2 linked regions of the Homo sapiens genome follow. The protein of the gene in region 1 interacts with the protein of each later gene in a biochemical or structural test. Each region holds a gene or a part of one and is shown on either strand. Other genes may lie near its edges.

Region 1 (16,180 bases):
GGGGCTGGGATGTAGCTATAGTTCTGACCCTGAGGGCAGGGTGAAGCCCTGACACAGCTATGGAGTAAAGAGGTGCTCTGGAGGCTTAGGTCCTGGGGAGCAGGACACAGCTACAATTTGGAACACAGAACCAAGAGGCTACAAAAAGAGCTTAGGTTCTGGGAGATGAGGTACCAAACAGTGGTCACTCTGGACCCTGGGATGGTGGGACATGGCAGTAGCCAAGGCTCTATGAGTCTAGGGGCAGCAACAGCAAGGACTTGGACATGGCAAGATGCCCCTGTGCTTGGGAACTGGGGGGAATAGAGCAGCACAGCAATGACTCCACTCTCCAAAGAGGTAGAGCACCTCAGCAGCTCAGACTTTGAGGGACTAGTCCAGTTCCAGGTAGGGGGGGCACTGTGGATGTTTAGCCTGGAGGTTGACATGACCCAGCTCAGGCAAAACTCTGATTCCCTGGGGTGTAAGGTGCAGCTAAAACCCAGAAAGCATGGCTACATGGGTCAGTGGAGGCTCAGTTCCCTAGGGCATGGTTCTATATCAGCTGTGGCACCGGTGGGTGCAACTGCTCCAATGTGCCAGAGGCTCAGAGCCCCGGGGCAAAGTGCTGCCTCACCTTTGGCTCTGGAGTGCCAAAGACATAAGGTCCCTGGGGAGCAGGGCATGCCTCATCATGGTACCAGGATTGTGTCTGCTATGGTTTGTAGGATGCTTGAGGTCCCTGGGAGGTGGGGAGTCACTTCAGCTCAACCATAAGGGGAGGGTGCACCAGTGTCTCACATGGGGGTGATGGAGCTTGGCCCTAGGGGATAGAGCTTGGAACAGCCTGTTTTGGGGATGACGTGCTACTGGGTAAGATGGTTTTAGTGTTGGCAAAGCCACAGGGATGAAGGGGTACATAGCTGCACACTCCCAGAGCACAACACACTCTAGCAGTGGCTCTGGTTCCAAGATGGTGCAGTGCAGCAGCAGCACAGACCATGGGGGAGGGCACAGTATCAGCTCTTTCTCTTAGATAGCTCAGCATATGAACTCTGGGGAGCTCCCTCAGTTGGGCTCAGAGCTTGTGAGGACTGTGGGAGCCTCTGGTAATGAAGATTGCATGTGTCCACGGTGGTGATGGGGTTTGCCGGGGTCCTCCTGCTCACCTTTTCCCTGCAGGAAGAAGGCTCTCCTGGTTCCAAGCTGATCCTGAGTGGATAGGGTGGCAGAGATGAGGTGTATCCTTTCCTTCCCTGTGCATCCATCCTGGGTTTCCATACTCTACAGAGTTTCTGCTGTTTCTTTATTGTTCTCCAGAGCTCTCCTTTAGTTATTTTGATTGAAATATAGTTGTTTCTTCACTATATTTTGATTTTTTGTTGGAGTTGGGGATGAACCTAGGAGCTTCCAGTCAGTCAACCATCTTGTGACATCCAAGAATTACTTTCTATTTTTCTTTTTGTATGGTATCTTTGCCTGGCATTGGTATCAGGGTAATACGGGCCTCACAGAATGAATTGGGAAGTGTTCCTTCATATTTTATTTTTTAAAAGAGATTGAGAATAACTGGTGTTAATTCTTCCTTTTTACTTTCTTTTTTTTTTTTTTTTTTTAGACAGGGTCTCACTCTGTCACTCTGTTACCCAGGCTGGAGTGCAGTGCTGCAATCATGGCTCACCGCAACCTCAAACTCCTCACCTCAAGCAATCCTCCCACCTTAGCCCTCCCAAGTAACTGGGACTACAGGCATGTGCCACTATGTCTGGCTAATTTTTTTTTAAATTTTTTTGTGGGCCGGGTGCAGTGGCTCACGCCTGTAATCCCAACACTTTGGGAGGCCAAGGTGGGCGGATAACGAGGTCAAGAGATTGAGACCATCCCGGCCAACATGGTGAAACCCTGTCTCTACTAAAAATACAAAAAAATTAGCTGGGCGTGGTGGCACGCGCCTGTAGTCCCAGCTACTCGGAAGGCTGAGGCAGGAAAATTGCTTGGACCCAGGCAGTGGATGTTGCAGTGAGCCAAGGTCACGCCACTGCACTCCAGACTGGGGACAGAGTGAGACTCCGTCTCAAAAAAAAAAAAAAATTGTGGACATAGGGTCTCACTATGTTGCCCAGGCTGGTCTCAAACTCCTGGGCTCAAGCAATCCTCCTGCCTCAGTTTCTCAAAGTCCTGGGATTACAGGGTGTTAATTCTTCTTAAATGTTTGGTAGACTTTACCAGTGAAGCCACCTGGTCCTGAATTTTTCTTCGTTGAGACTTCTTGTTAATAGGGTCTCTAAAGTGCATTTGTAAATTCCCAGTAATTTAAGCCTAATTTTGTGTCACTAAAGCAAATGATAATGTGCTGTAAAGTTGTGGTGAGTGATTTTCATTTAAAAGTTCATTTTAGAAATTTAAAAAAAAATTTATTGTACCACTTTGCCTCAATAAAGCAAGTTTGGTACACCCCAGATACGTGTTAGCCAGTAATAACTCCAGGCAAAACAATAAAAACTCTTAAACTCCCAACCAAAACAAAGGCAACCCATTTTAAAAATGGGCAACTGATTTGAATAGATATTTCTCCAAAGAAGATAGAGAAATGGCCAAAAAGCACATGAAAAGATGCTTAACATCATTAATCATTATGGAAATACAAGTCAAAGTCAGTAAGATACCATTTCACAGCCACTAGCATGGTTAAAATATTTTTTAAAGGGGAAAATTATAAGTATTGGCAAGGATGCCCTCTAACATGGCTGTAGGGAATATAAAATGGTGCAGCTTCTGTGGAAAAGAGTTTTGTGGTTCTTCAGAAAGTTAAACCTAAAACTGTAAATATAATCTAGTCATTCCCCTCCTGCATATATACCCCCAAGTGAAAACAGGTGTTCAAACAAAACTTGTCCACAAATGTTCAGCGTAGCATTATTCATAATAGGCAAAACGTGGAAACAACACAAAGGTTCATCAATTGATTAATGGATAAACAAAATAGTAATCCACCCAATGGAATATTATGCAGCCATTAAAAAGGAATGTAAATTAATATAGCCATTAAGGAAAAACAGTATGGACATTGCTAAGAAAACTGAAAAATAAAACTACTATGTGATCCTGCAATCTCACTGCTGAGTATATACCCAAAGGAACTGAAATCTGTGTGTCAAAGAGACATCTGCACTGCCATGTTCATTGCAGCATTACTCATAATAGCCAAGATATGGAATCAACCTGTGTCCATCAACACGTGAATGGATAAGGAAAATGTGGCATATATACACAATGGAATACTATTCAGTTTTAAAAAAAGGAAATCCTGTCATTTGCCACATGTATGAAGCTGGTGGACATTATGTTAAGTGAAATAAGCCAGACACAGAAATACAGATACTGCTGATCTCACATGTGGAATCTAAAAAAGTCAAACTCATAGAAGCAGAGAGTAGAATGATGGTTATCAGGGGTTGGGGTGAGAGATGGGTAGGATAGGCCACATTTCAGTTAGATGGAGAAATAAGTTCAAGAGATCTATCTATTGTACAAGATGGTGACAGTAGTTAATAACAATGTATTGGGTGGGCACACTGACTCATGCCTGTAATTCCAACACTTTAGGAGGCTGAGGCAGCAGGATCGCTTGAAGCCAGGAGTTTGAGACCAGCCTGGGCAGCATGGTGAAACCCTGTCTCTACAAAATTAAAAAAAAAAAAAAAAAAGTCAAGTGTGTTGGCATGCGCCTGTGGTTCCAGCTACTTGGAAGACTAAGGCAGAGGATCTCTTGAGCCCAGGAGGCTGAGGATGCAGTGAGCCGTGACTGCATCATCGCACTCCAGCCTGGGCAACAGAGTGAGACCCTGTCTCAAACAAACAAACAAAATGTATCATATACTTGGAAATTGCTAAGAGTAGATTTTAAGTGTTTTCAACCACAAAAAACCTAAGTATGTGAGGTAATGCATGTTTTAATTGGCTTGATTTAGCCATTCCACAATGTATACATATTTCAAAACATGTTGTACAACATAAATATATACAATTTTTGTCAATTAAAAGATAAGTTTAAAAAGAGAAAGTGGGACTTTTGGCAGTGAGTAGGTAATGAGGGTAAATCCCTCATGAATAGGGTGAATGCCTTTAAAGAGACCCCAAAGGGATAACTAGCCCCTTCCACCATGTGAGTGAGAACACACTAGAAGTGCCATCTATGAGGAATGGGCCCTTACCAGACACTGTATCTGCCAGAGCCTTGATCTTGGACTTCTTAGCCTCCAGAACTTTGAGAAATAAATTTCTATTCTTTTTTTTCTTTTCTTGAGACGGAGTCTCGCACTGTCGCCTGGGCTGGTGTGCAGTTGTGCAATCTCGGCTCACTGCAACCTCCGCCTCCCGGGTTCAAGCGATTCTCTTGACTCAGCCTCCCAAGTAACTAGGATTACAGGGGCCCCACTACCACGCCTGGCTAATGTTTTTGTATTTTTAGTGGGGACAGGGTTTCACTATGTTGGCCAGGCTGGTCTTGAACTCCTGACCTCGTGATCTGCCCACCTTGGCCTCCCAAAGTGCTGGGATTACAGGTGTGAGCGACTGTGCTTGGCCTAAATTTCTATTCTTTTTAAGCTATGCAGTTATGGGTTGTTAGTTGATGGGTTGTTATAGTAACCCAAATTGACTAAGAAAACCAACTAAGGCCTAAGGCCTAACATAGGCCTGGCACATAGTAAACTTCAATATTTGTTTGTTGAATGAATGAATGCACATTCCTTGAATAATCTGCATTTGACTCTATTTTCCACTCCTACTTTTTATATATATATATATAAACCATTTGTATACTTTTGAGAACCTAGATCCATGGTTCTCAAAGTGTGATCAGGAAAAAGAGATAAAGTGAGATTCACCAAAGTTGAAAACCTCTGTGCTTTGGGCTTTACCACTTATTGGGTTTGTGGCTTTTTGCAAGTTATATAACATGTCTGTGGTGCAATTATCTCATATGTAATCATAATTGTACTTCACACAATTGTCATAGAGATTTTCTGAGATAAATGATAATAATAATTGCTAACACTTCCTGGGCACTTACTATGTATCTGCTGTGTTCTAACCCATCAGGTGAGGCACTATTTTCATTTCATATAAAGGGATTAACATTGCCTGCACATATAAATGTCATATTATTATTATTAACATTATTGTAGTCAATGATTAAAGAAAAGGCTGACAAGGCCTTTTCTTCCCACCCTGAGTGCACGGATCTCCTAGTCGGATGTTTTGTGGGAGACCACTGTGCAACAGCCTGTTACTCCGTGCAATTGCATCCAGTCCAGTGCTTCTCACAGGTGAGCATGCATCAGAGTCAGTTGAAGGGCTTGTCAAAACAGATTGCCAGGCCTTGTCCACCAGGTTTCTGATTCAATTGGTCTAGTATGGAGTCCAAGAATTTGCATTTCTGACAATTTCTCAGATGCTGCTGATGCTACCAGCCCCTCACCAAACATTTTTAAAATAATTATTTTATTGAAATATAATTCAAATACCATAAAATCACCCTTTAAAGTGTACCATTCAGTGATTTGTTACAATATTCACAGTTGTACAACCATCATCACTCTAGAACAAAGTACACATTTTTCTTAATTTTTCAATCTGTTTTAAAAATAGGTATACAAAACAACATAAAAAAGTAGAGATGGAGAAGTCCTCCTCCCCTCATCCCAATCACTTGGTTCCTCCCCTCCACCAGGTAACCCCTTTTATTTCCTATACATCTATTTCGATGTAGCATTTCTTCAAGCAGATATAAGCAATATATGGTCTTTTCCTGTTTTCTTGCACTAGAGAGGCAGCACACTATGAATCATATTCTGTCAATTGTTTTTTTCATTTAGTAAAGCTGGAGATCATTATGAAGGTATTACCATGGCACATTTAACAGTCTCCTTACTCTCCAAGTAAACAAATATATCAATTTTTTCTAGTCTTTTGCTATTGCAAACTATGCTGCAAAAAATACCCTTACATACATATCATTTCACATGTGTTATCATTTCATATGTGTATCCTCTAAAATTCAGGTGTTGCCAAATAGGCCATGAAGGCTCCTCCATCACTAATAGGATTAAGGCCCTTATAAGAGGCTTCACGCAGCATTCAGCTAGCTTGCTTTCTTGCCCTTCTGCCTTCTGCCATGTGAAGATGCAGCAGGAAGGCCCACACCAGACACCAAATGCCAGCTCCTTGATCTCAGATTTCTCAGAGTGAGAAAGTAAGTATCTGTTCTTTGTAAACTACCCAGTCTCAGATATTCTGTTATAGCAGCACAAAACAGACTAAGACAATATGTGTGCAGGTGTATGTGTAGGATTAGTTTCCAGAAGTAGGACTGCTAGCTTAAAGAGTAAATACACTTATAATTTTGAAGCATATTTGATAGGAGTTGCATAATTTTGTACTTTTGTTAGCAATACATTAGAGGGCCCTTACCCCAATATGTGTTGTCCAGGACTTAGATTTTAGCCAATATGGTAGGTGTGCAGTTTAAATTTGCATTTCTCTTGTCATGAGTGAGACAGTACATTTTTCATATGTATAAAAGCCATTTGTGTTCCTTTCTCTGTGAACTGCCCTTGTCCTTTGCCCATTTTCTACTGGGTTTCCCCCAAGGAATACTCTTGCTTACTCCTCCAAGAGTAATTTATACTTTAGGGGGCTGTTTCTATATAACATCAATATGAACTATTCTTTAATTTTGCCATTTGTCTTTGCCTACTGTGTTTTTTTTGCCATGCATAAATTAGGGTTTTTATGTAGTTGAATCGATCAATCTTTCCTATTACGACTAGGACATTTTGAGTCATAGTTGGAAAGACTTTCTCCCCTTTCCCCCACTCTAAGATTATAAAGGAATCTGGTCATGTTTTATTCTAATACCTTGACATTTTTTCACGTTTAAATCTTGGATTCATTTATAGCCTAGAGCACTGTCATCTACCAGACTAAAAAAGAATATGGATGAGTAGATTCTAAACATTTCTCCCCATATTAGATCTTTCTTTAAATACAATCTTGCCCCATATATAAGACAGATGGAAGAGAGCTGCCCTGAAGGTGCAGCAGAGACCCTCCTGTGAGTCACACCCTCCCCAGACTCCATGGATCTCCATGGAATCCTTAGGATGGCTGTAAGCAGAGTGAAGACCACAGATATCTGCAGAACAGCAACTAGGCCAAAAAGTTTGATGAGAAAAAAGTTAAAAGAAGGACTTTCTGGTTTGTCTTGATGTTTGCCATTGAGTGTTTGCTGAGGAGGAAATGAGGCAAGACTGGAGAGGACTTAAGAGACCCTTTCTGCAGGGGCTCATCTTTATTATCAACAGTTCCCTTTTGCTGAGTTCATATGTTCAAGTGAAAAATTCCTCATGATTCTACTATGATCTGATTGGTGTAGTGGAGAATGCATCGACCTTGGTATCACATATGAGTTCTAATCCTGAACAGTTACTAGCTGTGCAGCCTCTGGCAAGTCATTTCTGTTTCACAATTAGCAGTTCATCCATAGTAAATAACTGAGTACTTTGTATATGGAAGACGCTGTGCTAACTGATAGAGATACAAAAACGGAGAAGATAGAAATGGTATTACCTTACAGCATGGAGGTGGAACCACATGGTAAACAAATAACTTTCGTAATTATTTAGATTCTAATTGTTATAACATCTTCAACAGAGCATGAGGTCCTGCGGACATGGAAGAGCAGGGAGGTTCAGGCTTGCTAGTTTAGGGAAGCTGGCCACCAGGTTCAGGTTTGACAGGCGCATAGGAAATGGCATGGCAGAGGGAGGCCAGAGCCTTTTAGGCAAAAGGAAGAGCAAATGCTTATTAGACCCCAAGGCTGCAGGAGCTAGGCACGTTTGACCACCGAAAGGGAAGGCCAGTATAGACAGCATAAACCTCACTGTGGTGTCTGTGTTGAGAATGGATTGTATGTGTGTGCTGTGTGAGGGGCAAGAGTGGATTAGGGGACATGGGTTAAGAGCTACTAGCAGTCTGGGCAAAAGATACTAGTGGCCTGGGAAACAGTGGTAGTGGAGAGTGGACACATTAGTAAGACACACAAACGTGTTCACAAAAATTCCTAGGTTTCTGCGTGAGCTGTGGCCAGGTGGATGTCCATGCCACTACTGAGATGGCGAATTCTGAACAGGAGGAAGTTTGGAGAAAAACCCCAACATTTCGGCAGGACAGCACCTCCTGGTGGAGATGACAAGCGGGAGCCTCACCACAGGCCTGGTTGTGGGAGTGAAAGGGGGACTCCGGGCGCGGTCGGGTGCACTTACTGTGCTAAGACAGCAAGGCCCGGCGGAGGTGGCAATGGCAGACCTGGTTTCTCGGCGGAGTCCCAGTGGGAGGCCCGGTGTCCAAAATCCTCAACTAGATTGGGCATGCCGTTTATCTTGTTCCAACTGTTGACAGTAATGGCACTAGCAATAATGTCCTTCCCAGGCAAAGATGGTTTTTCTTCCGTGTTTTCAGCCACTGCAGAGTGGACATCTACTATGAACCAAGTATCTGCGGCTTTAGGTACCAGATTCAAACACAGAATGGTGGCAGAACAGGGACTAGGACGGAGAGAAAACCTGAAGATGGATCAACCAGGAAGCAATGCATTCTCACAGAGGCACAAAAAAATGCCTCTGAAACAGAAGATTCACCTCCACTTCTGCGTCCTTTTGAGGCAACTTTCTGAGCATCCTTTCCTCCTCCCCAGGCCAACGCTTTTCCACCTTGTTAAACTACCCGGTAGCTTTCTCCATGGGAGGCGCCTTCTTCACAGTACTCGGACCCAGTTACACTTGTGGCCTTCCCCGGCTTCTGCTGGGCCGGCTATGGTCGACGCCGCACCGTCTCAGGCCCACTTCTCCTGCGGGAGCGGCGGCCCCAGCGGAGCCCCTGTGCGCCACGGCGAACGTGATAGGAATGCAATCTTCCGCCCCTTCAGACTCTGGCACCCCGTAGCCTTTCCTCAGGCTCCACGAGTTCTCCCGGTGATGTGATGACCGACATGGCGTCTGGGCTCTGAACACAGACTTTACTCCTTCCCCCCGGCCCCGAAACATGGGGAAACCACACCCTCTCTGCTCCAGTCACCAGCAGCCACTCCCATTCCTTAAGTATCCATTATTGCATGTGTAGCCTATTGCATGTGTAGCCTACTTCTGGTTTTCATTTTTATTTAAGGTCAGTTGTTGCCTGACAACACAGACGACAGTAACTTAATTCGAAAGACAATACTTGGAGGCGGCCCCCGCTCCAGGCACCAGCCCAGCAGCTCCCCCGAACTCCCCAGGAGCTCGCGGGCGAGCAACGCCACAGCCCAGAGCGAGCTCCGCGGAACCCCCAGCCCCGGGGAAGGAAGCTCGACTCTCCGCGGGGCACTCCTTCCGGGCTCCGGGCCCGACTAGGCCATCCGGGAGGCCCTGGAGCGCCGGGGCCGGAGAAGCCCTGCCCCCCGCCGAAGCCCCGCCCTGCGCCCGAGCGCCCGCCAATGGCAGGGCGCGGTGCGGCGCGCCGAGGTGGGACGGCGGCGCGCTGAGGAGGCGGTGCGCTCAGGCGGCGCTCCCGGAGATGCCCCGCGGCAGCCGCGCTCGGGGCTCTAAGGTAGGCTCTGGGGCGGGAGTGGGCGCCGCGCCGTTTCCCGCGTTGCGGGGAAGCGGCGGGCCGGCGCGGGGCTGGCCCCGTTGTGCTGGGGTGAGAGAGGGTGGGCGTTGGGGGTGAAGGGCTAGGTGGTGGCGGGTCCCGTCTGCGCGCGTGGAGCAAGCCCGCGCAGTGGGGTACCGCCCCCAGGTCCGGCTCCGGTCCAGGCGTGCGGGCCGGGCCCTCAGCGGCGGTACGGAAAGCGAGGGGTGGGACCGCCGAGGGACGCAGCGGGCGGGAGCATATGTCCGCCTCGGGGGTACTTGGCCTTACTCTTGTCTCTTTTTGATTCTGGTGTAATGTACCAAACCGCAGGGAATCCTGGCGTGGTTTTACCCGTCTCCGCGGATAATCCACTGTCAACTCTGTCTCTCTTCCTGCCGCACTCGGAGGGGACTGTGCGGCTGACTGCCCAATCCGTGGGCACCGCGCTGCCTCGGGTTCCAGAACGGGAGCGGGTGCCTAGGAATCGTTGCTTGAATGGTGTTTGATTGCACCTGTATCCGCGAGTGCATCCTTTTTTGTTCTGCTAATTGTGCTTGTCATGGCATGTGTCCTTTATCGTTTTAAAGTTTCTTCTAACTTCCTTGCTTTCAAATACGTTTGTCTCATAGTAAAACGGTTTTTAAAAAGCAAACACAGGACCTCCTTTCTTGACTCTTGCCTTTACTTGAAAACTTCCTGGAAAAAATAGACCACATATACTGGTTCAACTTCTTTACCACTACCATGCTTTCTCGCTTCTCAAATACCATTGATTATCAGCCCACACTATCAGTTTTGTGACTGGCTTTAGGGAATAAAGAAATTCATTTCAGGCACCTCTTGATTATAAGATACAGTCTGATTTCTGAAGCATTAATGTGTGAAAAAAATCAAGGAAATATATAAATTTGCTAAATCCAGTGTAAGTTGTTTACTTGATCATTGGAGCGTTTGACACATTCACCACCTGCTTTTATTTCTTTTGGAACATCCATGATTGTTTTCCTGTCTTGCAACAGCTCATTTTCTTCTCTTTACTGTGTTCGTGCCATGTTCTAATTTTTGACCTTGTGCTTTTTCACATGTTCCATATTTGCTTTGGACAATGTCATACATTGAAGTTAACTATATAGATGACTTTCAGATCTATATTAGATCTTTCCCTAGAGCTCAAACTTAGTGCATCACATAATCATCATCTCACCCTTAGTCCTCCAGGCCCTAACAGTTTCTCTTGACTTAGAAATCTTAGTATTTTTGAATTGACGTTCACTTCTGGTCTCTTCATCTTGTCATTTTTCAAGACTCTTTTTTTTTACTCAATTTTTTTTAGTAGTCGTACAGTTGTCTATTGTGTAATACGTTGCTGAAAACTGAAGCAGTTCATAACAAATGTTTATTATATCATAGAGTTTCTGAGACTCAGGAATCTGAGAACGGCTCAACTAAGTGGTTGTAGTTCAGGATCTCCCACAAGGCTGCAGTCAAATAAAGGGTCGTTGGAGCTGGAGAATCCAGTTCCAAGCTCACTCACGTGGTTGTTTCTTGACAGCTGCATAGGGCAGCTCACAACAGGGTCCTGGCTTTCCCAAGAGCAAGAGAGAGAGCAACAAGATATCGGTCCCCGTGTCTTTTATAGCCTAAACTCAGAAGTGACATCCCATCTCCTGTCTATTCATTACATGGACCAACCCGGTACAATGTATGAGGAGACTATAGAGGGTCCCCAGGAGGTGGGGATCACAGGGGCCACCTTGGAGGCTGGCTTCCACAGTATTTCCCAGGAATTTATTTTTTGTTTCTGTCTCCCTCGGTCAGTCTCAAAAGTACTTAATGGTTGGAGTGTTGATGTGTAGTGCCGGCTAGCATGCTCCCATTCCATCTTCAGAGGTGACTTTCCCTTAGGCACTACTTTGATTATATTGTTAGTCCTCTATCTAAATCTCATTTTACTTCTTATTGGCTACATCATAATTTACTGCAGAACTTATCCTGTGTTTAGTGCTTTATATGTATTAACTAATTTAATTATTTTAACAGTCCTGTGAGGTAGATACCATTAGTCTCATTTTATGGATGAGGAAACTGAGGCTCAGCAGAGAGGCTAAGTAATTTGCCTAAGGTCACACAGCAGTTAAGGGAAGAAGCTAGGATTTGTATCCAGGTAGTCTGCCCCAGACCTTGCTTTTGTTCAGGCTCTCAGCCTGTTATTCACAGCCTCCATAATATCTGTGTCTTATTCCTTTACAGCTTTGCTCATTATTTATCTTATAGGTAAACTAGACTACTGCGTCACTGTACTTGCTTGCCCCTTGGTGGTAATTGCGTATGTTCTTGGTTTGGAATAATGCCAGTTCTCCCATTTCTGCTGATTGAAACCTTTTTTTTTTGAGACGCAGTCTCGCTCTGTCGCCCAGGCTGGAGTGCAGTGGCGCGATCTCGGTACAGGCGCCAGCCTCCACACCGGGCTAATTTTTTTTAAATTTTTATTAGAGACAGGGTTTCACCGTGTTAGCCAGGATGGTCTCGATCTCCTGACGTCGTGATCCGCCCGCCTCGGCCTCCCAAAGTGCTGGGATTACAGGCGTGAGCCACTGCGCCCGGCCATGAAATCTTAATCATCCATTGAGGCCTACTTCAAATCCCACCTTCTCCCAAATTATCCCAGCTATAAATGAACTTTCTTCTGTATGTTCTTGGTTTGGAATAATGCCAGTTCTCCCATTTCTGCTGATTGGAATCTTAGTCATCCATTGAGGCCCACCCCAAATTTCACCTCCCAAATTATCCCAGCTGTAAATGAACTTTCTTCTGTAGTCTGTGGAATTTTATGTAAATAACTCTTACTATTCCATGTCTTACATTAGGTTTATTTGTGTCTACACCTTTATTCCCTTATATTCTAGACATTTAAGATTAGGGACTATTTCTTCAGCCCATATTCCCCAGAATACCTGTCATATCCCTTGTATGTACTAGATATCTGATGAATTAATGAAAGGAGAACTAGTTTAGAAGATTTGCAAGTATTCCAGGTGTGAAGAAACAGGAGGAAATACCCTAGTCCGAAGACTCGGATATCTGCCTCAGCAGTACAGCTGAATGATTTTGCAGTTTTGGACAAGCCACACAGATATATCACGACTCTTAAGATGAAAGGTGGTGTGGTTATGGACTAAGGTGGTGGAATTAGGAATAGAATAGAAAGGACTGGGTTGACAGACTACAAATGGAAGGTGAGATTTAGGCAACTGCAATTGAAAGAGGAAGAGGAGGAAACCCATGGTGATTCAGAAAGTCGAACCTATGAGAAGTGAGAAAGTTGTTTGCCTCTTAACTGATGTTAGGATATATAGATATATCCTATATATCACATATATAGATATGTGGTATTTAAGTCCCAGGGAGATTAGGGCAGTCAGTTGCTCAAAGGCTGGGGTATCTTAGTTCTTTCCTCACTCCCCTCTCCTCCATGAGTTTCTCCTGCCCTAGCCCCTCACTATCCCTTAACATGCTGTGATTCTTCCCTTTGTGCCTTGTGTTCTCCCTTTCCTTATGAAGTAGCCAAGGACGACCACATATACTCCTGTTCTTGGGCAGCAGCTTGCCTTTTGAGATTTTCTTTTTTTTTTTTTGAGATGGAGTCTTGCTCAGCCACCCAGGCTGGAGTGCAGTGGCCCGATCTCGGCTCACTGCAACCACTGTCTCCTGGGTTCAAGTTCTCTGAATAGGGCAATATACCTAACATTGAGTTGTCGTTTCTTTATAAAATGGGGTTAATACCTATATTGCTGGGTTGATGTGAGGATTAAATTATGAGAATGCATGCGATGATATACCGAGCATATAAACACTCAATAAATGTTGGTGATAATGAAAGCAATTAATAATGAAACACCATGATAATTAAAGAAATCATATGAGGACAAAGATATTGTACATCCTCTACTGCTTTGTCTCTAGATTTCCCTGGAATTGCTGTCTTTCAGCTTCTTGAACAAGAAATAGGAAAAAGGCTCATTTTCAAGTTTTTCAGTGATGGCAGGAAATTCTCATAGTTATCTTGGTAGGAGTACCTCATGGTTCCAGTTTAAGGCCTTGATAGTCTCATTGAATGATTTACTGGTGGCTCTACATCTCAGAATTAGACTACTTAGTATTGACATCTCAGTTGTCTTTTTTTTTTTTTTTTTTTTTGAGACAGTCTTACTCTGTCGCCCAGGCTGGGGTGCAGGGGTGCTATCATGGCTCACTGCAGTCTTGAGCTCCTGGGCTCAAGTGATCCTCCCATTTCGGCCTCCTGAGTAGCTGGGACCACAGGCCATGCCACTGTGCCTGGCTAATATTTAAATTTATTTTGTAGAGATAGAGTCTTGCTGTGTTGCCGAGGCTGGTCTCGAATTCCTGACCTCAAGCCGTTCTTTCTCCTTGGCCTCCCAAAGTGCTGGGGTTACAGCGTGAACCACTGTGCCTGGCCTAGAGGTTGTCTTATTCCTCAAACCAAAGGGAAAGAGAGGAAAGAGAGCTTTTATTGAAAGCTTTCTATATGTCAAGCACTTTGCATAGAGTACCTCATTTAAGGGAAAACATGTTTTCTTTTTAGTCAAAATAATACATGTTCATAGGTAAGGTAAAATAGTACAAAAAAAGTTTGTTGTAAAACTCAGCAGTCCCTTGCACATCTCATTCCATTTATTTTTATTGAGATAACTGTAAATTCACAGACAATTGTGAGTAATATAGAGAATAATTGTTTTATAAACTAAATCTGGAGGCTGGGCCTTGCTAGATCAAAGTGTTGACAGATTTCATGTCTGGTGAGGGCCTGCTTTCTGGTTCACAGACAGCCATATTCTTACCATGTCTTTATATGGTGGAAGAGGTAAAGGAGCTCTCCAAGGTCTCTTTTATAAGGGCATCAATCCCGTAACTTCTAATCACCTGCCAAAGGCCCCACCTCCTAATACCATCAGGTGATCTGCCCGCATCGACATCCCAAAGTGCTGGGATGACAGGCGTGAGCCACCATGCCCGGTCTGAAGTTTTTTTTTTTTTAATACAACATAAAACTCTCATGATTTATCGAAGTTGTTGTGCATATCAGTAGTTTCTTTGTCTTTTTTTTTTTTTTTTTTGAGTTGGAGTCTCACTCTCTTGCCCAGGCTGGAGTGCAATAGCGCGATCTCGGCTCACTGCAACTTTCCGCCTCCCCAGTTCAAACAATTCTCCTGCGTCAGCCTCCCAAGTAGCTGGTACTACAGGCACCTGCTGCCATGCCTGGCTAATCTTTTGTATTTTAGTAGAGACAGGGTTTCACCGTGTTGCCCAGGCTGGTCTTGAACTCCTGAGCTCAGGCAATGCAATCCACCCACCTCGGCCTCTCAAAGTGTTAGGATTACAGGCATGAGCCACTGTGCCTGGCCAATAGTTTCTTTGTTTTAATTGCTGAGTAGTGTTCCATATAATGGATATACCAGAGTTTGGATTAACATTTATTATTGAAGGACCTCTAGGCTGTTTTCAGGTTTTGGTTATTGCAAATAAAACTGCTATAAACATTTGTGTACAGGTTTTTGTGTGAACATAAGTTTTCATTTCTCTGAGATAAATGCCTAAGTATGTAATTGCCAGAACCTATGGTAATTTGATGTTTAACTCTATAAGAAACTGACAAACTTTTCCAAAGTGGTTATATCTGTATAATTTTGCAGTCCCATTGGCAATGTTGTTATTCAGTTTTATAGATAATAAAATCTACCCTTTTAAAGTGGAAAATCCAGTGGTTTCTAGTATATTTACAGAGTTGTACAAATGTTCCTAATTGTAGAATATTTTCATGACCCCAAAAAGAAACCCCATAGCTATTACTAGTCAGTCACTCCCCATTCTCTCTTCCCTCATCCATTGGCAACCACTAAGCTACTTTCGGTGTGTATGGATTTGCCTATTCTGGACATTTCATATAAAGTGTGGTCATTTTGTGACTGGCTTCTTTCATTAAAAATAATGTTTTCCAGGTTTATACATGTTGTTGCATGTATCAGTACTTCATTCCTATTTATTTTGAATAAATTTTTTATTGCATGGACATACTGCATTTGAAAAATCCATTTATTAGTTGATAGACATTTGGATTATTTCCACCTTTGGGCTGTTAAGAATAATGTTGCTTTGAACTTTTTTTTTTAATTGAGATCCGGTCTCATTATATTGCCCAGGCTGGTCTCAAACTCCTGGCTGGGCTCAAGAGATCCTCCCATCTCAGCTTCTCAAGGTGTTGGGATTACATCCGTGAGCCATCGCACCTGGCCTGCGTTGAACATTTGTATATGCATTTTTATGTAGACCTAAGTTTTTCTTTCTCTAGCAGTGGAATTTTTGGGTCACATAATAACTGTATGTTTACATTTTGGATAACTGTTAGAATTTTCCAAAGTGGTTGCACCTTTTACAGTCTCACCAGCAAGGAATGAACATTCTAATTTTGCCACATTCTTGCTAACACTTGCCATTGCCTGTCTTTTACTTTTAG
Region 2 (15,577 bases), on another chromosome or scaffold:
CTGCTTTAGTGGGCTCATCCAGCCTCATCCACAAATATACTTCAGAAAGATGGCTGAGACCTGATGGGAGGGAGGAGACTGGGTGGCAGGGGCCAACGGGGATGCTGTACAGAAGCAGGGCAGGAGGCCAGCAAGTGACTGAAGATTTCCTCCCTCCGAACTGGCTGGATCCTTTTGATGGAGAGTCTAAGACATCAGCTTAGACACAGACCCAACAGAGAGAAAAGCTTGTCTGATTTCTCGCTCATTTCTAGGTAACTCATAGCAGTTCACCCCACCTCCTGACTTCTCCAGGTTCCTCCATAAAGTGGTTCTCAGATCTGAATCCCCCAGCCCTAGAAACAGGAAGAATAACTTCCTCCCAGTTTATTTAACAAGAACACACCCATAGCACTTGCTGTATGCCAGGCACTGTTACACGTGTTTTAAAGTATTAATTTAATACTTATTTTAAAATTCTACGATGCGGGCTCAATTATTATGCTCATTTTACAAGTGAGAAAACTGAGGCATTGCAAGGTTTAGTGATTTATCCCAAGGTCATATAATCAGTGACCAAGCTGGGATTGGAGCCCAGTCAGCCTGGCTCTAGAATCCATGCTCTTGCCCAGTAAACTATGCTGCAAAAGATGCCATCTGCTACCCAGGATTAACCATTTCTGAAGGTAACTGGCAGTGAAGACATTTATTCTCTTCTGGGTAAAGCCCTATCTTTGCCTACCAAGGTAAAGTCTTGGACCCTAGACCATCCCTAGGGGGCCCCTAGACCCCACATCCAATGTGGGGAAGTTTTTAAAGTTTTGGATTATTCAGACTAATCTGTGGTCAATACAGAGCATCTTTATTTAAATACATATTCAAGTTAGTGTCAAAAAGAGTGCACAAAGTGCTGCTGGCACTGGAATTAGATGTTTCCTTACTGACCTCTGGTATCTCCTGATAACAGGCCCCTCCTGCTTAGTGTTGGGAAAGTCCCAGATTGATCTAGACACAACTAACAGCTGATATGAAAGATTTGTCCTGGAATCACATGTCTCCTCTCTAAAATCCAGCAAACAGCAATACTCCCTAAACCTGGAGAATCTCATTGTTGCTGACCACATGCCCATCACCAAGGAGCCTGCAGGAAAGCCCAAGACAAAAAGGGGAGCAGGTGTCACTGGGTGGCCCCTTGATCATCATGAGGGTGTGCCACAGTTCAAAGAGAAACAAGAGAGGAGAAGACCCCAAGGGAGGGCAGTTCTAATATCCACTGACTCCACACCCGCACCCCTTAATTCAGAAATCCAACAGACATGACAAATTAGAAACTGATTCTGCTGGTATGCAATTCAGAAAGTCTACATTTGAGGAAAGATATGAACATTGACTAACGGCTTTTTTATCTAGGGATCATTTCATTGCTTTTCTAAATTATGTAAATATCCAAACGTCAAACACTATAATTTTTTTTTGCCTTTTCAACTGCATTTGATATCAAAATCTATTTCCTTAATACCTCTGGGTTACTTGCCATAACTTACACTTGTAATAAGTAGTAGAAAAAAATTAATAAGAAAGCACTGTGAGTGTAAGTTGCTTGCATAAACTGGATACATCTGGAGCTACCAATTTAGAGAAACTTGTGAATGGTTCCCCAGAGCACAGATGTGCAGTGGATGGTAGAGGAAAGAGGAAGAAGATAACAGAGCAGGCTGTATTGCAGCAGACCTTGTGAATCCCAAAGTGCTCCAATGTGGAAGTGAGATCTAGACCCCAGGATTTATGAGATGGATGTGTCCCCAGGTGTTGTGAGAGAGGAGCCAAGTCACACAGGAAGAGTTCTAAATGGAAGGGTGTCTCACAGGACAGACTCAAAGAGGACTCAGCAGCTGTCTTCACATTTTACACTCCCTTTAATTTGAAGAGTCTCCTCTCTAGCTCCAAAGACAAAGTGAAAGAGACAGATTTTCAATACAAAGAAAAACTTAGAAGTCAGCCTATCAGCAAGTGGAAGGTGTTTTCTTACAGGGCAGTGAATTCTCCATTGTAGGTGCTCAAATGGAGATAGGAAAAAACCAAGAGTTGGGACATCGGAAAGTCAGTCTTCTATGAGACTGACTTTTCAGTCCATGAGATTGGACTGAAAATTAGAAAATTCTTCAGCTTCCTTGTATATCTGAGATTCCAATGTCCTGTGAAAATAAGAGAATTTGGCTACTTTATGAAACAGCAAGGTTAAGCAGCCTAAAAACAGTAGAAAAAAACACCAACAAGGTGGGTTATTTTTTCCTTCCCAAACTCTAAGCAAGGAAACCTAAGAGGAAGAACTGGCCAGCCCAGCCATAATAACACCTGGCACCTGGGCAGTGCTTACCGTGGGCGAGGCTCCGGTCTAAATGATCTTCAGACCTCAGCTGGGTTGATTCTGAACAATTCTCAGTAGTGGCTCCTGAGCAGTGGAGCTAGGACTTGAACCCTGGAAAGCTGACTCCATAGCCCCTGCTCTTAATCACTCCACCCCTGCCGCAGTGCTGTAAGAATGCAGGGCATTCGTTTCCTGTGGCTGCTGGAACAATGGACGGCAGTCTCAGTGTCTTCAAATAACATAAACGTGTTCTCTCACAGTTCTGGAGGCAGAAACTGAAATCGAGGTGTTGGCAGGGCCATGCTGTCTACAAAGTCCAGCTGTTGGTAACCCAGACATTCCTTGGCTTGTGACAGCATCACTCCAATCTCTGCCCCCATCTTCACATGGCCTTCTTCCCTCTGTGACTCTTTTCCTTTTCTTTATAAGGACACCAATCAATCAGATGAGGGCCCACCCTAATCCAGAAGGACCTCATCTTAACTGGATTATGGCTGTAACAACCCTCTTTCCAAATAAGGCCACATTCACAGGTGCCAGGGGTTAGGGCTTCAACATATCTGTTTGGGGGATGCAATTCAACCCCTTACATACTGTACCAAACTGGAGGCACCTAGAAGTGTTGACTCCAATTGGTAGCGCAGTCCTTGAGGAAAATGACGACCCAAGCAAATGTTTCCTTCAATCTCTGCTCTACCCCGTTTCAGGTGCTATAGAAAAATTACGGGAGGGCATTGTTTTAGAGTGAGCTCCTGCACTAGGTCCCAACAGACCAAACTAAAGTGGAGTCACTCATGCTAAGTGCCATTTAACCAAGCTGAAACTTTAAGAAAGCTGGTGGTCCCCAAATAGACCAGTTTTTCTTGAAAACAAGAGTCACAGCAACCCATCAGAAAGAGTTCAGTCTGCCTGAGTCAGAGTAATAAGGAAGTCCCATTTGCTTTAACCATGACGAGAAAAGTAGTCTGAATTAAGCTGACACTAACCAATCAACCTTTAAAATAATACTGTTTCCTTGTTCCCACCTTACAAAACCACTGTTCTGCCATTCCCCAGTGGGAACTCTAATTCTATTTTATAGAATGGAGGCTACTGGATTCATGAATCATGAATAAAAGCCAATTTGATCTGTAAATAATTTTGTCTTTTGACACCAGGAGAACACCACCTCCCCCCTCACCAGCTGTGTTTATGACAATGATGCCAGAGGTAGCCTCTTCACATCCCTTTATGATTCATTCAGTATGGCCAATGAAAATCTTTTACTAAAATTGTGCACTTGCTTCACCCTGGGCTCACACATCTTACTCCTCTGCTGGAGGGCTAGAACACCATCCCCTCAATCCTGGTACTTTTTTCTTCCTTACCACTGAGTCAGGGAGCTGAGAGGTTTGGAAGTCAGTGGGAATCCACACAGAGAAAGAACTGGATTTAGATTGGGCTGTTTTCCCTCTGAGCTTTGTCCTGTTGGCTTCCCTATCTCCTCAACACCACCTGCCTCCCGCACCCACCGACACACACATCTCCAGAATGTAACTCTCCTGGCTGACAGGGAAGCACATTATTTAGGGCCGTATTATCCCCTCTGCTCAAAAACAAATGAGCTCACCGAAGTGTACACTTGCATTTATCTGAGACCATGTTTATAAAATTCATGAATATGGAAATGGGCAGCCATCTCCCAGAATCCCTCACACCAAGAGAACTGGCACTGTCTGCTGTAGGTGAAAACCTCTTCCCTTGAAGGCTCAACAACTTCTACCCAGAAGAAGAAAAGAACAGCATATTCTTTCTCATACACACACACAAACACACACACACACACACACGCACACAGTATATACCACCAGTCTGTGGTCTTGGAAGCAAAGTTTAATAATTGAATAGCTCAAGCACTAAACTCTTACATATTATTAAGATACTATCCTAATATGTCTCATTTGTCAAAGATGGAAAAGTTTTGATATGACATAAGGGTTTCAATCCCAATAGGAATATTAATGGTAACAATAAAAATAACATAGCAACACGGTTTCTGTTGAATGCCTGCCACATGCCAGCAACTGCTTTGATAATTAAAGAATTATATCTTATGTTGATTATAATCCTTATAATGGCTTCCTGGGTAAGAAAGGTTTATTACTGTTTTACATTTGAGGAGGAGACTAGGGTTCAGAGAGGGTGCAGAAGTGAGTTACACTTTTGCCAACCAGGCCAGAAGATGAAAGCCGCTGGATTGGGAAATGCTTTTGTATCAAAAGCACAAAATGAAGTGGCTAGTGTTACTTGTTGGAAAAAAATTAACTTTGGCAAGCATAAATATAATTCAGTATTTGAGCAATACTTTTAGGAGGGTAACAGAGTGGTTTATGTGAATTCTCCAAAATGCCATCATGAAAATTTTGATGATGAAAATCACCTAAAATTGCTAATTACCTGTCTTAGCCTGTCTAGGGCTACAAAGTACCATATGCTGAGTGGCTCATAAACAATAGAAATTTATTTCTCACAGTGGAGGCTGGAAGTCAGAGTGCCAGAATGGTCGAGTTCTGGTGAGGGCTCTTCCAGGTTGCTGTCAACTCTTTGCATCCTTAGGTGGTGGCAAGAGGGCTAGAAAGTTCTTTGGAGTCTCTTTTATTGTATTTTATTTTTTGGAGACAGTCTCACTCCGTCCCCCAGGCTGGAGTGCAGTGGCGCGATCTCAGTTCACTGCAACCTCCACCTCCTGGGTTCAAGCAATTCTCAGGCCTCAGCCTCCTAAGTAGCTGGGATTACAGGTGCCCACCACAACACCTGGCTAATTTTTGTATTTTTAGTAGAGACAGGGTTTTGCCATGTTGGCCAGGCTGGTCTCGAACTCCTGACCCCAGGCGATCCACCTGCCTCGGCCTCCCAAAGTGCTGGGATTACAGGCATGAGACACTGCACCCAGCCTCTGGAGTCTCTTTTATAAGGATACTTACTATTCTCATCCATGAAGTCTCCACTCTCATGACCTAATCACCTCACAAAGGCCCCGCCCCTTAAAACCATCACATTGGGCTTAGGATTTCAACATACAAATTTTGGGGGGACATAAACTTTCCATCCCTAACATTACCCAAATAGTATCTATATAGTCATTTCTAAATATACACGTATTTAGAAATTTCTAAATAGCCAGTAAACATACAACTGACTTGGCCTTGATATAACTGTTTTCATTTTCTTTTATTTTCATTCTACATGACATATTTTGGGTAATTATAAAATAATTAAAATTAGTTGATAAAGTATGGAATTAGAATAAAATAATTTTCTATTACTATCTAAGCCATGAAATGAATTAGGAGATGCTGTTTTCAGTGAAACGTCTTCTAGTTTTTAAAGTGCATTGTCCAATTCCTTTTTATTTTGTGAAGATTTTAAAAACTTAAAAAAAGTCTTCAAATTGTTTGTGCCTTGCATTTCTTTAAATCTTATGTTTAAACATCATGTGCTGCTAGTTGCTAGTCATTTTCTCTATCCCCTGCCCCAGACCCTCTCTTTCTCAGGAAAGGATATCCAGGGATCCGGGTCCCAGTTAGTCAAGGAGATATAAGAGGAAGGCTATGAGGCTTTCTGGGAAACATTTTCTTTTTCCAAGAGAGAAGTGTTCAGAGGGAAAAGGTCCTTTCTCAGTTTGGCTCCCTCTTTGTGTTTTAGATCTGGTCATGTGAGGCTGCCTGGCTTGGATTGTGAGGGCATCTCTCGACAATGAAGTGACAAGCCTGGGGAGGAAAATCCACAGGCGAGAAGGTGGCAGAATGGAGAGATGGTCCTTCATGACTTCTTTGAGTCACCAGGTCCAGATTTCCCGCCAACCTCCAGTCTTCTTGTTATGTGATCTGATATCATTATTTACTGCAGAGGCCACTGAGTGGATGCTCTTACTTGTGTCTGAAAATCCAATTCACTAAATTAATCAAAATACGGCACTCTTCTTTTGAAACCTTGCTCCAGAACAAAGTGGAAGGTAATGATGGGGTGCTTTTCAAAGTTCCAGGGAGGTGTCCCTACACAGCAGACAGCTGTCCAAAGGAATGTAGATGTTGGCTGCGGGGAGATCTGAGTTGCCAGACTCAGTCAGAACAGGTGTCCTCTCCCTTATTTTATCTTAAACATGCATGTCATTTTTGCATGCTACTCTATGCGGTTCTTTCAGCCAGGGAACATTGCTGAGCACCCGCTCACGTGCTGTATGGAGCGCAGACTGCAGGGTGCGAGGGGCGGAGGTGATGTGCTAGGCCTGAATTCAAGAGGGGGCGCAGCCACAGGCCCCGCGATGCCGGGGTGGCCTCTTGTAACGACGTTTTAACCGCTGACCTAAGTGGATCCGCTCCTCTCCCGCCGCCCGCTCCCTGCCTGCAGCACAGGATGGCGGCTGGCTTTCCCGAGTGGGCGCAGGTGAGCCACGCTTGCTCTCCCGGGTGGGCGCAGGTGAGCCATTGTTTGCTCTCCCGGGTGGGCGCAGGAGAGCCACGCTTTGCTCTCCCAGGTGAGCCGCCGCTCGCTGTCCCGGTGAGGGGAAGTGAGCCACGCTCTATGGGAATCCTTCGAATCTTCATTCAATTTCCATCGCCTCCTTGTATTTATTTGGGAGTACTTTTAAAAATGAAGCCTATGCACAATGATGTAATAAGCGTTTATAGAACACCACTGGTCGGAGCTAGGGCCTAGGTGGCGGTGCCCGGGCCCAGGTGCCGCGCCCACGCCCCGCGCGCCGAACGCACGCACGCACGCACTCACGCACTCACGCACGCACGTACGGCGCGAGTCCGAGGGCGACAGCAGCGCGCAGGCGCACGTCAGTCCCCGCGCTTTTCGGAGGCTGCCAGCGTCCCACACCAGCCGCAGGTAGGATGCGGTGACGGGAGGCGGGGCAGGGGCGCTGCTGACCCCTGTGGAGCATCAGGGTTGGGGCGTAGGGGAGAGGCGGGCGTGTGCCTCTGGAATGCTGGGGGTCGCGGGGCGGTGACTTCGCGGGAGGCCGTGGGAGGCGGGAGCCAGGCAGTGGCTGTGCCCTTTTGCTTCTGTCTTAGCGGGAGGGTGGCTGACCCGCTAGCCCAGAACCAGACTCATCCAGGATTAGGAAGCTGGGGCCCGGCGTGGACGGCAGGCTCGGGGCCAGGTCTGCGGGCGGCTTCCTTTGGCAGAGCCTGTCCGGGGGCGGGGCCGCTTACCGCAGGCATTTACTGGGCCCAGCGGGGCTCTGGGCGCCCACAGCGGGGGTCAGTCAGTTCCCCTGTGACCCAGGCAAGCTCTTAATCTCTGTGATGAGAAAGAAGGGCTCATACCTTTCAGGGGTCATCGTGAGGAATCAGAAGAAGCAGTATTTTATAGAGTATTTTCTAAGTGCTGAGTCCTCTGTCTAGTGCTTTGCAGAATTAAAATACCTTGTCAGCTCAGTGATGTTGCTGCGCTTCTTTTATAGGTGAAAACCGGCAGAAAGACATTAAGAGATTTTCCTGCAGTCACTGCTGGCAGATGATAGAGCCAGGATTTGAAAGCAGGCAGCCTGGCTCCAGACCCTGTGCTCTTAACTCCCGTTTTGCATCAAGAACAGAATCCTATGAAAGGCTTGCACAGTGCTTGGTACTGAGTAGGCACTCCGTCAGTATTTTAGTAGCTATTATTCCAAAGGACACTGTATTCTAGGTACTAAGACAATGTGAATGGAATGGAAAACAATTCCTCCCTGCAGAAGCCAACTGTCTAGGAAGACAGATAATGACATTATTAAAATAATCAGAACATTGGCAAAATAAAGAAGATTGAAATGCAGTTCATATGACAGTGCTAATTAATCATACTTTTTAGATCTAGGAAAGGCCATAAAGGTTAAATTGACTTGGAAATGGTAAACAAGACAATGGTTGTGTCACTGATCGGTGATGGCCAGTTTTTGGTTATCCTTATTTGCCATTTAAATGATTGAATTGAAAGGAAGAAGTAAGACTTGGAAGATGAATATTGAAGGAAAGGTGAAGATGGAAAAGAGAAGGGGGTTTATTCTGAGAACAGTGACTAGAACTCTGAGGTATGGTAGAAATTTCAGGATAACAGATGATAAAGGGGAATGAAGCCATGGAGAGGAAGAGAATGATAATATTAATTGTGAAAGTTTGTGTCAAGTGTTTTCTGAGTCACCTTTCTTTCAGTTTCTCATTTCTAGTATTGTATAAATGAGTTTAACATCAAAATGGTATAGTGAAAAAAAGGATGAACTGCTTGACAGAAGAGGTCAGATCTAGTTTTGACTCTAGCTTATTTAGCTTTACAGCTTTAAATAAATTACAGTGTCTTTAAAGCTCTGGATCTTAAGTTTTCTAATTGTTTTTTAAACAAAGATTTGTGAACACCTACTTACAATGTGACAAATGTCTTTGTAAGGCATTATGGGAGATAAAAGCTGCATTAAACCTGGCTGTTGTACTTACAAGTAATTTGGAAGGCAAAATTTCAAATACTTGAACCTAAAGTAGGGTTTCTTGGTTTTCATTTAATTGAAATACTGTTAGGAAACAAAAATTTTTCATAAATTTTTCTTGTGGATATGTAAGTAAATTCTATATATCTAGCAATATGATACATCTATAGTTCTGTTTAAAGGTAACAATGTGAGGAAGCTTATGCGAATAACTTGACAGAAGAAATCTAAAGTAAAAGCATTTTCCTAGTAGGCTAGCTTGTTCTCTTATTTCATTTATTGTAACAGTTTCACTTTTTAATAATTATGTGAAATTAGGAAACAGATATTCTAGGGCATTCTGTTTAGGGTGATGAACTTATTCATGAATGTTATTAAAACCATTTAAATATGCCATAGTTTAAATTTGTGATCCATGCTGTTCAATCTGTGACCTAGGATAGCAGCATCAAGGAGCATTGTGTACATGCAGAAGTGCACAGTACCTGGAGTGAAACTGCTTGTGTTCGATTTCTGATACCATTCATAACTGGCTGTGTGATCTCAAGTAAGTTCTTTAAGTCTCTCAGCCTCGGTTTGTACATTTGTGTGATAAGGATAATGATAGTTTTCAGATTATTTTCATAGTCATTGCTTGATTTGATTCTTCCAATGGTTCCTCTCACTTTGCAGATAAGAAAACTGAAGAACCAGCTGGGCGCGGTAGCTCACGCCTGTAATCCCAGCACTTTGGGAGGCTGAGGCGGGTGGATTACCTGAGGTCAGGAGTTCAAGACCAGCCTGACTAACATGGCGAAACCCCATCTCTACTAAAAATATAAAAATTATCCAGGGGTGGTGGCAGGTGCCTGTAATCCCAGCTACTTGGGAAGCTGGGGCAGGAGAAGCACTTGAACCCGCGAGGTGGAGGTTGCAGTGAGCTGAGAGCGCCACTGCCCTCCAGCAGCCTGGGTGACAGAGCGAGACACTGTCTCAAAAAAAAATAATAATAAAATAAAAATAAACCATCAGTGATAGTAAAAAGCTCACTTAAGCTCATTCACCTAGTTTTATAGATCAGACTTAAACCTCTTGTTTATTTTGTTTTGCTTTATGTATCTATAGTTCCATTGTTTTTAAAATTTAAAATTAATTTTAAACCTTATGAATGCTTTCCCTACAGATAAAATTATGTAACTAGAACAATTTAACTCATATAAATTATTATTTAATCAAGTCCTTAATTTTGAAGACTTCATATTGATATGTCTTGAATACTTGAAATCTATAGTTAACTAGATATTTCTCTTATAACCTGTCCTTATAAATCTACATTATAAATAAAAAGTCCAGTGTCCCTTCCTTCAGATTAGCAGAAGTTTCAAAATTACATTTAAAGTATTTTCTTTGTTTTCCTTCATACTGATTTTCATTTTTATTGTTTGTTATAGAACCTCTAAAATGCAGACCTCCAGCTCTAGATCTGTGCACCTGAGTGAATGGCAGAAGAATTACTTCGCAATTACATCTGGCATATGTACCGGACCGAAGGCAGATGCATACCGTGCACAGATATTACGCATTCAGTATGCATGGGCAAACTCTGAGATTTCCCAGGTCTGTGCTACCAAACTGTTCAAAAAATATGCAGAGAAATATTCTGCAATTATTGATTCTGACAATGTTGAATCTGGGTTGAATAATTATGCAGAAAACATTTTAACTTTGGCAGGATCTCAACAAACAGATAGTGACAAGTGGCAGTCTGGATTGTCAATAAATAATGTTTTCAAAATGAGTAGTGTACAGAAGATGATGCAAGCTGGCAAAAAATTCAAAGACTCTCTGTTGGAACCTGCTCTTGCATCAGTGGTAATCCATAAGGAGGCCACTGTCTTTGATCTTCCTAAATTTAGTGTTTGTGGTAGTTCTCAAGAGAGTGACTCATTACCTAACTCAGCTCATGATCGAGACCGGACCCAAGACTTCCCGGAGAGCAATCGTTTGAAACTCCTTCAGAATGCCCAGCCACCTATGGTGACTAACACTGCTAGGACTTGTCCTACATTCTCAGCACCTGTAGGTGAGTCAGCTACTGCAAAATTCCATGTCACACCATTGTTTGGAAATGTCAAAAAGGAAAATCACAGCTCTGCAAAAGAAAACATAGGACTTAATGTGTTCTTATCTAACCAGTCTTGTTTTCCTGCTGCCTGTGAAAATCCACAGAGGAAGTCTTTTTATGGTTCTGGCACCATTGATGCACTTTCCAATCCAATACTGAATAAGGCTTGTAGTAAAACAGAAGATAATGGCCCAAAGGAGGATAGCAGCCTGCCTACATTTAAAACTGCAAAAGAACAATTATGGGTAGATCAGCAAAAAAAGTACCACCAACCTCAGCGTGCATCAGGGTCTTCATATGGTGGTGTAAAAAAGTCTCTAGGAGCTAGTAGATCCCGAGGGATACTTGGAAAGTTTGTTCCTCCTATACCCAAGCAAGATGGGGGAGAGCAGAATGGAGGAATGCAATGTAAGCCTTATGGGGCAGGACCTACAGAACCAGCACATCCAGTTGATGAGCGTCTGAAGAACTTGGAGCCAAAGATGATTGAACTTATTATGAATGAGATTATGGATCATGGACCTCCAGTAAATTGGGAAGATATTGCAGGAGTAGAATTTGCTAAAGCCACCATAAAGGAAATAGTTGTGTGGCCCATGTTGAGGCCAGACATCTTTACTGGTTTAAGGGGACCCCCTAAAGGAATTTTGCTCTTTGGTCCTCCTGGGACTGGTAAAACTCTAATTGGCAAGTGCATTGCTAGTCAGTCTGGGGCAACATTCTTTAGCATCTCTGCTTCATCCTTAACTTCTAAATGGGTAGGTGAGGGGGAGAAAATGGTCCGTGCATTGTTTGCTGTTGCAAGGTGTCAGCAACCAGCTGTGATATTTATTGACGAAATTGATTCCTTGTTATCTCAACGGGGAGATGGTGAGCATGAATCTTCTAGAAGGATAAAAACAGAATTTTTAGTTCAATTAGATGGAGCAACAACATCTTCTGAAGATCGTATCCTAGTGGTGGGAGCAACAAATCGGCCACAAGAAATTGATGAGGCTGCCCGGAGAAGATTGGTGAAAAGGCTTTATATTCCCCTCCCAGAAGCTTCAGCCAGGAAACAGATAGTAATTAATCTAATGTCCAAAGAGCAGTGTTGCCTCAGTGAAGAAGAAATTGAACAGATTGTACAGCAGTCTGATGCGTTTTCAGGAGCAGACATGACACAGCTTTGCAGGGAGGCTTCTCTTGGTCCTATTCGCAGTTTACAAACTGCTGACATTGCTACCATAACACCGGATCAAGTTCGACCCATAGCTTACATTGATTTTGAAAATGCTTTTAGAACTGTGCGACCTAGTGTTTCTCCAAAAGATTTAGAGCTTTATGAAAACTGGAACAAAACTTTTGGTTGTGGAAAGTAAGTGGGATACTTGGAATCAAGGCATCTCTGTAGTACAGTCTTCTTTATTTTTTAGCATAGAAAGTTGGGGATGTGTTAATTGTATTTTTAAGAATATATTCTAAGTTCTGTACTTCAAATAATAGCACAGATTTTACATCTGATTGACATAGTGTATGTTAATGTAAGTTTTGCTTTCCAGTGATTACCTGATACGTAAGCCTATTTGAACAAAGTGAGAATGAACTTTTGTTTCTAAGAAGTCTTTATCTTGAAGCTATATAACATGAAAAGTGAGCTCAAATTTTTTTTAGTTGAAGATTACATATAAAGTTGTGTCTGATTAATATTCATCTTTTATTGAAGAAAGTGCCTTCTGATGGCCACATAATTCTTAATGTCAGCTAGTATAATGGTTTACATTTGGACAAAGTATTGCTTAGTGTTATTTAAGTAGATTTAAGATCTCAAAGCTAAAGTGCCAATTTTTACTTTCTTCAGCCAATTTGTTACCTCTTTTATGGTTTTTAATTTTTATCAGGACTAACATTTTCAGAAATAGCAAGGTGTGATCTAGTATTAGATTCACAGAACTGAAAGGTTAATTAAGAATGTTGGTTATTTTCACGGGAGCGTGTGATATTTAACATTAATATTTTATTTGACACTACAGCCTGTAATACTGCTCTCTTTCAAAAACAAGTTTTCAGATTTTTATAACAGACCCATTTTGTTTTATGAAACATGTTCATTACAGAAACATGAGAAAATAGAGATAAGTAAAAAGAATAAAAGTCACTATTATCCTACCACTTTGCGGGACACACTATTAATATTTAAGCATAGATTCTTCCAGATGTTTTGTTTTATACAGCAGTAGGATTGTGTAATGTATTCTCTCTTGTAGCCTATTCTTCAAAGCGTATCTTCACTTTCCATGTTAACATAAATGTCCTTTTATGATTGTCTAGGATTCCATGGATGGATGGAATATAATTGAGTCATCTGGTAGAGCGCATATAGGACAGGACGCTAGGTTGTTTATCTTTTGTTTATTGTAAAGGAACTATGTGGGATGCATTTGGTGATCTTTTTAAAAAATGTATAAATTTCTTGAGTAATTCCTGGATTAAAGAATATGCACTTTTTAAAGCTTTTGGCTTGCATTCTAAATTGTCCTCTTGAAAAAGTAGTTCCTGTGTAAAACTCCATCTGCACTGAATCAGAGCTATGGCAGCATTGGGCAGTAGGCAGTTTTGGTATTTGTTGGCATTCTTTTTGCATTTATTCAAAAAACTGAAGGTAGTGAACGTAGAGCAATGAACAACACAAATATCCTTGGTCTCGTGGAGGTTATATTTAAGTTCTAATGTTTTCTCTTGTGAACAGTGCAATTTGAAATGACAAATTGAAACACTTTTAGTTGTTGAATTTAGACAGTTTGTGTATATAGTTTAAATTTTTATTCTTGGTTTGCCTTCTGTTTTTATGTTAAAAGATTGTTGCAATTTTTAGTTTTTCCCTTTGTAATATGTGATTGTCTTTCATTAGAATTCATTTTTTGTTTTGTTTTGGTTATTTTGAAACAGTCTCGCTGTGTTGCCTAGGCTGGAGTGCAGTGGTGTGATCTCAGCTCACTGCAACCTCTGCCTCCTGGGTTCCAGTGATTCTTGTGCCTCAGTCTCCCTTGTAGCTGAGACCACAGGTTTGCACCACCACACCCAGCTAATTTTTGTATTTTTAATCGAGATGGGGTTTCACCATGTTGCCCAGGCTGCTCTCGAACTCCTGGCCTCAAACGATCCACCCACCTCAGCCTCCTGAAGTGTTGGGATTACAGGCATGAGCCACCACGCCTGGCCTTTTTTATTAGAATTTGGACGTTAAACTTCTTGTCTTCAGTTCTTAGTTATATCTTTTAACATCCTAAAACATTCCACAATATTCATTACTGTCTTTATCCCTTTCTATTTCTATATAAACAGCACTATAAACTTGGTTTCTTTGGTATTGATGTCAAGGAATTCTCTAGTTTTTCTTTCTTGGTGTTTAATTGCAGATCACTCCCACCTTCTTGGGTCTAGCTATTTAGATTTATCAGCATTTGCCCTCTAGCTGTTAATGTTTTATTTAGCTCTGAAATTTGGTCTTAATATTTATTATCAGTTTTTTTCAGTTACAGCTTCTGCCAGCCCTGACTTTAAGCTCCCTTGATCACCAGCCACAGGGCCACTTCTTTCTATGGAGTTTAGAAATTGTGACAAGGAGAGAAAGTCTAGTTGGTTTAGCTCATCTTGGATTAAGCAGAGCCCATGTCTCTCTTGTTAGCTCAAGAAATGGTCTTTCCTGAATTAAGGTCTACTCTGTTAAATAAGAATCTAAACCTGAAAGGAATAGTCAGGATATTTTAAAGCTGGAAAGAAAATTTGAGCTGGGGAGTCAACTGTTGTTTCTACGTTATACCACAGAGAAGCTTTCTTTGTCTCAACACTTTGTGATTTTGAGTGTTTCTGAAGCAGTTGGATAGGAAGCTTACTGAAACTTTAAGATTGCTTACTCTCGCCACATGCGATTGTCTTCATCGAATATAATAATCTTGGATTAAATTATCTCAAGTGTGGCACTGCCCTGTCTTTAGCTATTGTTTCAGAAACATGAATGCTAGCCTGATATTTAATGTCTTCAAAAATTACATTCCCTTAGTAGAAATACACATTTTACTAAACATGTCACTTGGTTATGGTATTAATGCTTAACAATTTTGATATGAATATGGTAATTCTAATTTATGATTTCAGGCCTTCTTAAATCTTTATTATACATCTAATAATAATATATGATCCTTTTGATATGTATTCATTCTGTGGTAAATTTCTAATTTTCTGAAATTTTAACTCATTTTCTCAATTCTAAAATATCTCTCAGGTGTGCCTTTCATATTGACAAGCTGGTCTTAATGGAATCATAGTCTAAAGATCATGGGCTGTGGAGCCAAATAGACCTGTTGAATTCTGGCTCTGTCATTTACTGGTGACTGTTGGTTACTTAATTATTCAATCTCAATTCTAAAGTGAGAATAGTTTATACCTGTCTTGTTGGAGAGTGAGGATTAAATAGTAAAATACAGATTTAAAAGGCCTGGTTCATGTTTTATGATTGTGCCTCTTCTTTGAATCTGCCTTGATTTTGCTCTTGTTGCTGTGAAGGATCTTTTCAGCTATTTTGTGTGGTTGTCCTAGCTCATTCTGCTTAGTGTTTGTGGTATTTGCATCATATTATTAGAGATCATATGCCATCTATCTTTAGTTTTGTGGAAAAATTCTAATTCCAAAGAAATAT

The links.
Region 2: the proteins of SPIDR (region 1) and FIGNL1 form a complex in vitro, tested with the Homo sapiens proteins (one study listed by BioGRID).

Annotation. Positions count from the first base shown.
Region 1 is NC_000008.11:47,251,365-47,267,544, forward strand, and holds the start of SPIDR (DNA repair-scaffolding protein), read left to right. Parts: upstream 1-9,573; 5' UTR 9,574-9,594; coding exon 9,595-9,627; intron 9,628-16,180. UniProt on the Homo sapiens protein: Plays a role in DNA double-strand break (DBS) repair via homologous recombination (HR).
Region 2 is NC_000007.14:50,441,946-50,457,522, reverse strand, and holds FIGNL1 (fidgetin-like protein 1), read left to right. Parts: upstream 1-7,172; 5' UTR 7,173-7,222; intron 7,223-7,799; 5' UTR 7,800-8,405; exon of another isoform or gene 8,406-9,233; 5' UTR 9,234-9,342; intron 9,343-9,467; exon of another isoform or gene 9,468-9,555; intron 9,556-10,225; 5' UTR 10,226-10,235; coding exon 10,236-12,260; 3' UTR 12,261-13,390; downstream 13,391-15,577. UniProt on the Homo sapiens protein: Involved in DNA double-strand break (DBS) repair via homologous recombination (HR). Recruited at DSB sites independently of BRCA2, RAD51 and RAD51 paralogs in a H2AX-dependent manner. May regulate osteoblast proliferation and differentiation.